Linked DNA regions of Homo sapiens. The protein of the gene in region 1 interacts with the protein of each later gene in a pairwise test. Each region holds a gene or a part of one and is shown in the gene's direction. Other genes may lie near its edges.

What was found.
Region 2: the proteins of SPATA13 (region 1) and GALK1 interact in a two-hybrid assay, tested with the Homo sapiens proteins (one large-scale study listed by BioGRID and IntAct).

Annotation. Positions count from the first base shown.
Region 1 is NC_000013.11:24,223,033-24,226,846, forward strand, and holds part of SPATA13 (spermatogenesis-associated protein 13), read left to right. Parts: coding exon 1-1,550; intron 1,551-3,814. UniProt on the Homo sapiens protein: Acts as a guanine nucleotide exchange factor (GEF) for RHOA, RAC1 and CDC42 GTPases. Regulates cell migration and adhesion assembly and disassembly through a RAC1, PI3K, RHOA and AKT1-dependent mechanism.
Region 2 is NC_000017.11:75,757,394-75,760,107, reverse strand, and holds the end of GALK1 (galactokinase), read left to right. Parts: intron 1-1,508; coding exon 1,509-1,659; intron 1,660-1,735; coding exon 1,736-1,898; intron 1,899-1,980; coding exon 1,981-2,052; 3' UTR 2,053-2,214; downstream 2,215-2,714. Other genes in the region: ITGB4 (integrin beta-4), read right to left, coding at 2,553-2,692. UniProt on the Homo sapiens protein: Catalyzes the transfer of a phosphate from ATP to alpha-D-galactose and participates in the first committed step in the catabolism of galactose.

The DNA of each region.
Region 1 (3,814 bases):
ACCTGAAAGACGCCAAGATGGTGACCTCCCTTGCGTGTGGAAATGGAGTCTGTGGCTGCAGCCCTGGTGGCGACACGGACACCCAGGAAGCCAAACTCAGCCCAGCCAAGCTTGTGCGCCTCTTTTCCACCAGTCGGAAGAGGACGGGTGCCCACCCCGAGCGGCCCCACTCCATGGTCCTGGTGGGGAACTCCTCCACATGGAACACCCTCGCCTCCTTCCGGAAAATGGGATCCTTTAAGAAACTGAAGTCCTCAGTCCTGAAAGGAATTCAGAGCCGAGAGGGGTCAAATGCCTGTTCAAAGGGAGAGGCTTCGGAGCATGGCCTGGGAAAGTCCATCCCAAATGGCGCTGTCCCAGGAGCCCAGGCAAGCAGGGGCTCCCCCTTAGCACCGGGACCAGCATGTGGTGCCCTCAGGCCAGCAGAGTGGGGCACATTGGATGGCTCCGACCTCGAGGACACGGACGATGCCTTCCAGCGGAGCACACACCGCTCCCGCAGCCTCCGCAGAGCCTACGGCCTGGGCCGCATCTGCCTGCTGGATGCGCCCCAGAACCATGCGACACCCACGATAGCCACTGGCCAGGTGCCCGCCGTGTGTGAGATTCTCGTGAGGGACCCTGAAAACAACAGCATGGGCTACAGGAGGAGCAAGAGCACGGACAATCTTGCCTTTCTGAAGAAGAGCTCCTTTAAGCGGAAGTCCACCTCCAATCTTGCAGACCTCAGGACGGCCCATGACGCACGGGTACCACAGAGGACCCTGAGCAGTTCCTCCACTGACTCCCAAAAGCTTGGGTCAGGAAGGACCAAACGCTGGAGGAGCCCGATAAGGGCCAAGGACTTTGACAGAGTCTTCAAACTTGTGAGCAATGTGACTGAGGCTGCCTGGAGGAGGGAGAGTCCTAGGAGTGGGGCCCCATCCCCTGGAGAGGCCAGCCTGAGACTTCAGGCACACAGCCGGCTGCATGACGACTACTCCCGCCGCGTCTCCAGGAGCACTGAGCAGGACAGCAGGCGGGGCGGGGCGGTCATGCATGGGACCACTGCAACCTGCACCGTGGCCCCCGGTTTCGGCTCAGCCACCTCTAAGGGGCCCCACCTAGACGCTGACACTGCCGTATTTCCTCTTGAAACCAAAAGTTCCTGGGCGGTGGAAAGCGACAGTTCCTGCACTTGCAGCTCTTTGCCAAGCCCGATTGTCCAGGATGTGTTGAGCAAAGACTCCTGTGACCCAAACGCTGGCAGCCAGTTGACATTTGACCCTGAGCAGCCTCCCACCCCTCTAAGGCCCACCACACCCAAGCCCCAGAGCCCTCAGAGCCCCCAGAGCCCCGGGGCAGGAAGTGCCAGCTGTCACAGCAATCACAGTGCCCTGTCCGCGAATTCAGAGGAAAGTGAAGGAAGGGCAGAAGAGCCTGCTCAGAGAGAGCCAGGGCCTGTGTCCTTGCAGGATCCCCTGGAAGCCACACATGGTGATGAGGGCAGCAAGGACCTTCTGGTGAACATTGGTGTGGCAGCCGGCCCAGAAGAAAAGGAGAAGGAGGAGGTAAGGGCAGCGGCGAGGTCCCTCATGTGGGCGACCCTCCTGCGGGAAGGGAGCTTGCACAGGTGTTGCCCTTGGTCCCTAACCTGTCAAGGTCAGTGGCCCTCTGCTGACCTTGTTGCCCTTACAGTATTAGTGGGAATGGGAGTTGTCAAGTTGCTGTTTACCAAGTTCAGAAGTAATCTCTATCTCCTTTGAAATAAATTGACAATGTACGAGATTCATTGAGATGACATTTGCCACACCTTTCATTCAAAAGATGTTTATTGAACATGTACCAGGTACTAGATTCTGGGGGAAAAAAATAAGTTGTAAACAAACTGTCTTCTGCTCCATGCAGCTCTGACTCATATCTTTCTTCTTTGTATTTTAAGCTGTTTCTGTAACCTTTCCCACAAAGTACATATAAGTGAAATTCTTTCTGTTAAGAGACTATTACCTGTCCTAATGTCACAGCACCTGTGGGTGTCACTTGACCAGCTGGAAACCTCTGTGGGCTGGCAGTGCCTCTGCTTGAGTTTTGCTCGTGCCCACTAGCCTCGTTCCACCCATTCTGCCCAGCAGGCTGCATTCGGCTTGCACTGCCAGCCCAGATCCCATGCCTGCCAAGGGCAAACCAGGAATGGAGCAGCGAGGGGTGTGTGAGTGAGTGAGCATGGAGTCCAGCCTCTGCACACAGCCAGGCATGTCAGCTGTTGCAGCAGGGCAGGCAGCTCCAGGTGCCGGCACAGGTGCTGGCTCCATGCAAGGCTGTGGCTGGACCAGATGCACTGTAGCTGGCTTCCGCTGCAGGCACCAGCGTGTGGACGAGGGGAACGTGGTGACGAGTGAAAGCTCAGAGATACCAGGAATCACAGAGCCCCAAAGAGGGTGTTACGGCCTGTCACAGCCTGGTTCTCATCTGGGCTCCCAGAAGGGCCACAGCTCTCTTCTTCTCATCACCTGCATTACAGCAAGCAGGGGGGCTTGTTTCTGGGAGTATGTTTCACCCCATTTGTGTTATATCTCCTTCAGTCCCACTGCCCCACTCCAGCATGCAGCTCTTGGGCTGGTCTAGCCCCACCACTGCTTCCTGTTGCATGTTGCAGCTGCCTGGTGCTGGTGGAAATTGGGAGGGTTATAGTGTTACAACTTTAGTTGAGGGAATCCCAAGGTTTGGGCCCCCAGAAGGGTTGCCACTCTTCACGCCTGCAGTCCAGGGGCATGTCACTGTCTGTAGCTCGGTGAGCTGGCCAGGAATTTGTTGCAGCCCCTTTAACTCCCACCTGCAGCTGGGCGAGCCATCCGGGAAAGTGTTACAGCTCCTTTCGCTCCCACCATTGGGCAGGTTCCACATCCAGGAAAAATGAAGTTACGTGGACAAACGGAGGGTGAGCAAGGCTGAGAAGAGCTTTATTGGGTGACTGAACAACTCTCAGCCCATAGGAGACCTGGAATGTGTTGCTCCTCTCTGCAGGCAGGTAGTCCCAATGAGTGGCGGAGTCTGGGGGTTTTTATAGGCTCAGAATGGAGGAAGTGCATGCTGATTGGTCCATGGGCAGGCCTGGAAAAAGCACCATTTGATTGGTTGAAAGGCATCAAGGAAGTTCTCACTCCAGGTCGCTGACTTCACACGAAATTGGCATCTGTGCCCTGAGGCTTCAGGCTGTCCCTGGCTTGAAGGTGGGGTTTCACTGCGGACCCGCCCCTTCCCACCTAGGTACCTGTCCACCTCCCACCACCATCACTAAGTCTGTTTAATTTCCTAGGAATGAATTAGGAACATGCAGTTTGGTACCTGTCGGCCTTTGAATGATGCTTGTTTAAAGAGATTTTTATGATGGGTTATTGTACTTATTTTAGAGTAGATCATAAGCACCTCATTAATTGACTAAGCTAATAGCTGTCAAGGTTACAACAGCAGTTTTTTTCATATTCTATCAAACATCTTTATAATTTTCACTTTATAAACACTGAGTAATATTACCTTACATAGCTGGAAGATGGGGAAATGCATTCATGTGTATATATTGCAGATTATTCTTCACATACATTTCTAGATTGATTTGCAGGTATAGATGGTGCTTGCCATAGAGAATAATCCCCTAGCAAATGCTCCTTCCCACCCATCCCTGGGGAGGACCTCAGTTTTGTCTTAGCACCTACAGATGAATGATTGCACAGCAAGTTTGCAGACTCAGAAGCCAGGACAGCCTCTGCACTGTCCATCTTGACCTTTGCTGTACAGACAGACCTGGTTAGTAGAACCTTTGTAGAAAGACCTAGAA
Region 2 (2,714 bases), on another chromosome or scaffold:
ACAAAAAAGATACAAGTATCCTTAAGGCTCCTGCTACACATGGCCAGGAAGGTAGTCTATTGGACAGTTTTAAGGTCATTATCAATATTAGCTCATTTAATTCCCTCCAAAACTCTGTAAAGCACATTCTGCTACCATAGTTGTCATATTTTTGATGGGGGAATCTACAGTGAGAGGCAGTGCTGGGATCTGAACCCCATCTGGACAGATTAGCTCCAGGGCCCATGCTCTTGACTGGCTGGCCGTGCTGCCCACACTGAGTTGTTCCTTCCTGGCAGTGTAGGTGTGCCTATCTCAGGGACACTAGACAGCTCCGAGGGACCTCCCTGTCCTTTTCCTTTGTGAACTGTGTCACGTTCTCCAGAGCAGTGCTCAGACCTGCCCTGCCTGCTCTGTGCAGATGCCCTTGGCCAAGGTTTTCACACTGGAACAAGTTGGTCCCTCCTCCCCACCCCAGCCTGTCCTTGCCCCTCCTCCAGGTCTCCTTCTGCATAGGAGCAGCTCACCCTGCCTCCTCCAGAGTCCTGCCCTAGAAGCGCAATCCCTCTCCTTCCATCCCCTGCCTGGCTGCCTGGCTCCTTCCCTCAGCCTCCAAGACATGCTCAGTTTTCTTCCCTCCTAAAACACCACCCACTGTCTCATTTCCATTCATTTCTTTCTTTCTTTCTTTCTTTTTTTTTGAGAGGGAGCCTCACTCTGTCACCCAGGCTGAAGTGCAGTGGCATGATCTCCACTCACTGCAACCTCCGCCTCCCAGGTTCAAGCAATTCTCCTGCCTCAGCCTCCTGAGTAGCTGCGATTACAGGCGCCTGCCACGATGCCCGGCTAACTTTTGTATTTTTAGTAGAGACGGGGTTTCGCCATGTTGGCCAGGCTGGTCTCGAGCTCCTGACCTCAGGCAATCTGCCTGCCTCAGCTTCCCAAAGTGCTGGGATTACAGGTGTGAGCCACCGCGCCCACCCATTCATTTCTCAGTCCTTTGAATCTACTTGCCCCTCCATCCCGCCATGCCACCTACCCTAACAACCTTCCCCCTTAAACCTGCGGGTTTGGCCGGGCGCAGTACACTGAGTCAGTACTGGTACTGACCCAGGTACCCCTCCAGCCTCAGCTCCAGTCAGATGGGACAGCCTGCTGGTCCCTGGCTGCTTCTGCCCCCTCTTCTGGAGCCCCAGCCCTGGAGGCTCCATGTGGCTCAGCAGAACTTCTTCTCCTCCTGCTCTGTGGTGGCCTCTTGAGGGCAGCACTCACCTTGGAAAGCATGGAGTGTTTCAACCCTCACTGCTCCCTGAAGGACCAAGGTGTCCCATTTTACAGTCGGGGGAGGAGGCACTGTGATAAAGGGGCTCTTCAGACCCACGTCTGAGAGAGCCAGGCTGCCCTGCCCCCGCGGCCTTCCACCCTTCACCGTCCAGCCAGGGCCACTGCCATCACCGCCTGCTGGTCCTCACAGGCGTCGGGGCCCCAGGCAGTGAGAAGGCGGCTGCTGACTCCTCTTTCCTCCCCAGCTGCCAGGGACCTGGTGAGCAAAGAGGGCTTCCGGCGGGCCCGGCACGTGGTGGGGGAGATTCGGCGCACGGCCCAGGCAGCGGCCGCCCTGAGACGTGGCGACTACAGAGCCTTTGGCCGCCTCATGGTGGAGAGCCACCGCTCACTCAGGTGAGGCCCTCTGGGCGCCCCGCTCCTGCCGGGCACAGGCCGGCCCAGGCCCACCCCTTCAATATCCTCTCTGCAGAGACGACTATGAGGTGAGCTGCCCAGAGCTGGACCAGCTGGTGGAGGCTGCGCTTGCTGTGCCTGGGGTTTATGGCAGCCGCATGACGGGCGGTGGCTTCGGTGGCTGCACGGTGACACTGCTGGAGGCCTCCGCTGCTCCCCACGCCATGCGGCACATCCAGGTGGGCGGGCACCAGGGCCTGGGCGGGCAGGAGCGGCAGCTTCCCGGGGCCCTGCCACTCACCCCCAGCCCGCCTCTTACAGGAGCACTACGGCGGGACTGCCACCTTCTACCTCTCTCAAGCAGCCGATGGAGCCAAGGTGCTGTGCTTGTGAGGCACCCCCAGGACAGCACACGGTGAGGGTGCGGGGCCTGCAGGCCAGTCCCACGGCTCTGTGCCCGGTGCCATCTTCCATATCCGGGTGCTCAATAAACTTGTGCCTCCAATGTGGTACCTGCCTCCTCTAGAGGTGGGTGTATGCTTGGGTGTCAGAGAATGGGGGATGTCAGAACCGCTCCCCTACCCTAGGGGAGCACCTCTCAGGCCCCAGAAGAATGGGCAAGGCAGGGCCTAGCAGTAGCAAAACCATTTATTAAGTGCAGAACAAAGGCTGGGTCCTTGTGCTGCTCCCAGCTCTTTGGTTACAAATAGGTTTGGGCCCACAGAGGACGGACCTTGCCCCCTTCATGCCTCCCAGGAGACACCTAGCCCCTGCTCTGTGCATGCGGGTGGGCTGGGCCCCCAGGGGTGCAAGGATGGAGTAGCTGAGGAGGCTCCGGGAGAGGAGTCGGGAGGACGCCTAGTGGGACGTGGCGGGGGTGGGGCAGGGTGCGGTCAAGTTTGGAAGAACTGTTGGTCCATGTGGGTGCTAAGGGTTCCGCTGGTGGTCAGTGTCCGGCTCACAAACTCCTGGGTCACATGCCGGGTGAGGGAGCCGCCTGCCTCCAGGTGCTGGGCCCCCAGGGTCAGCCCATCTGTGGAGGAGGAGGCATTAGA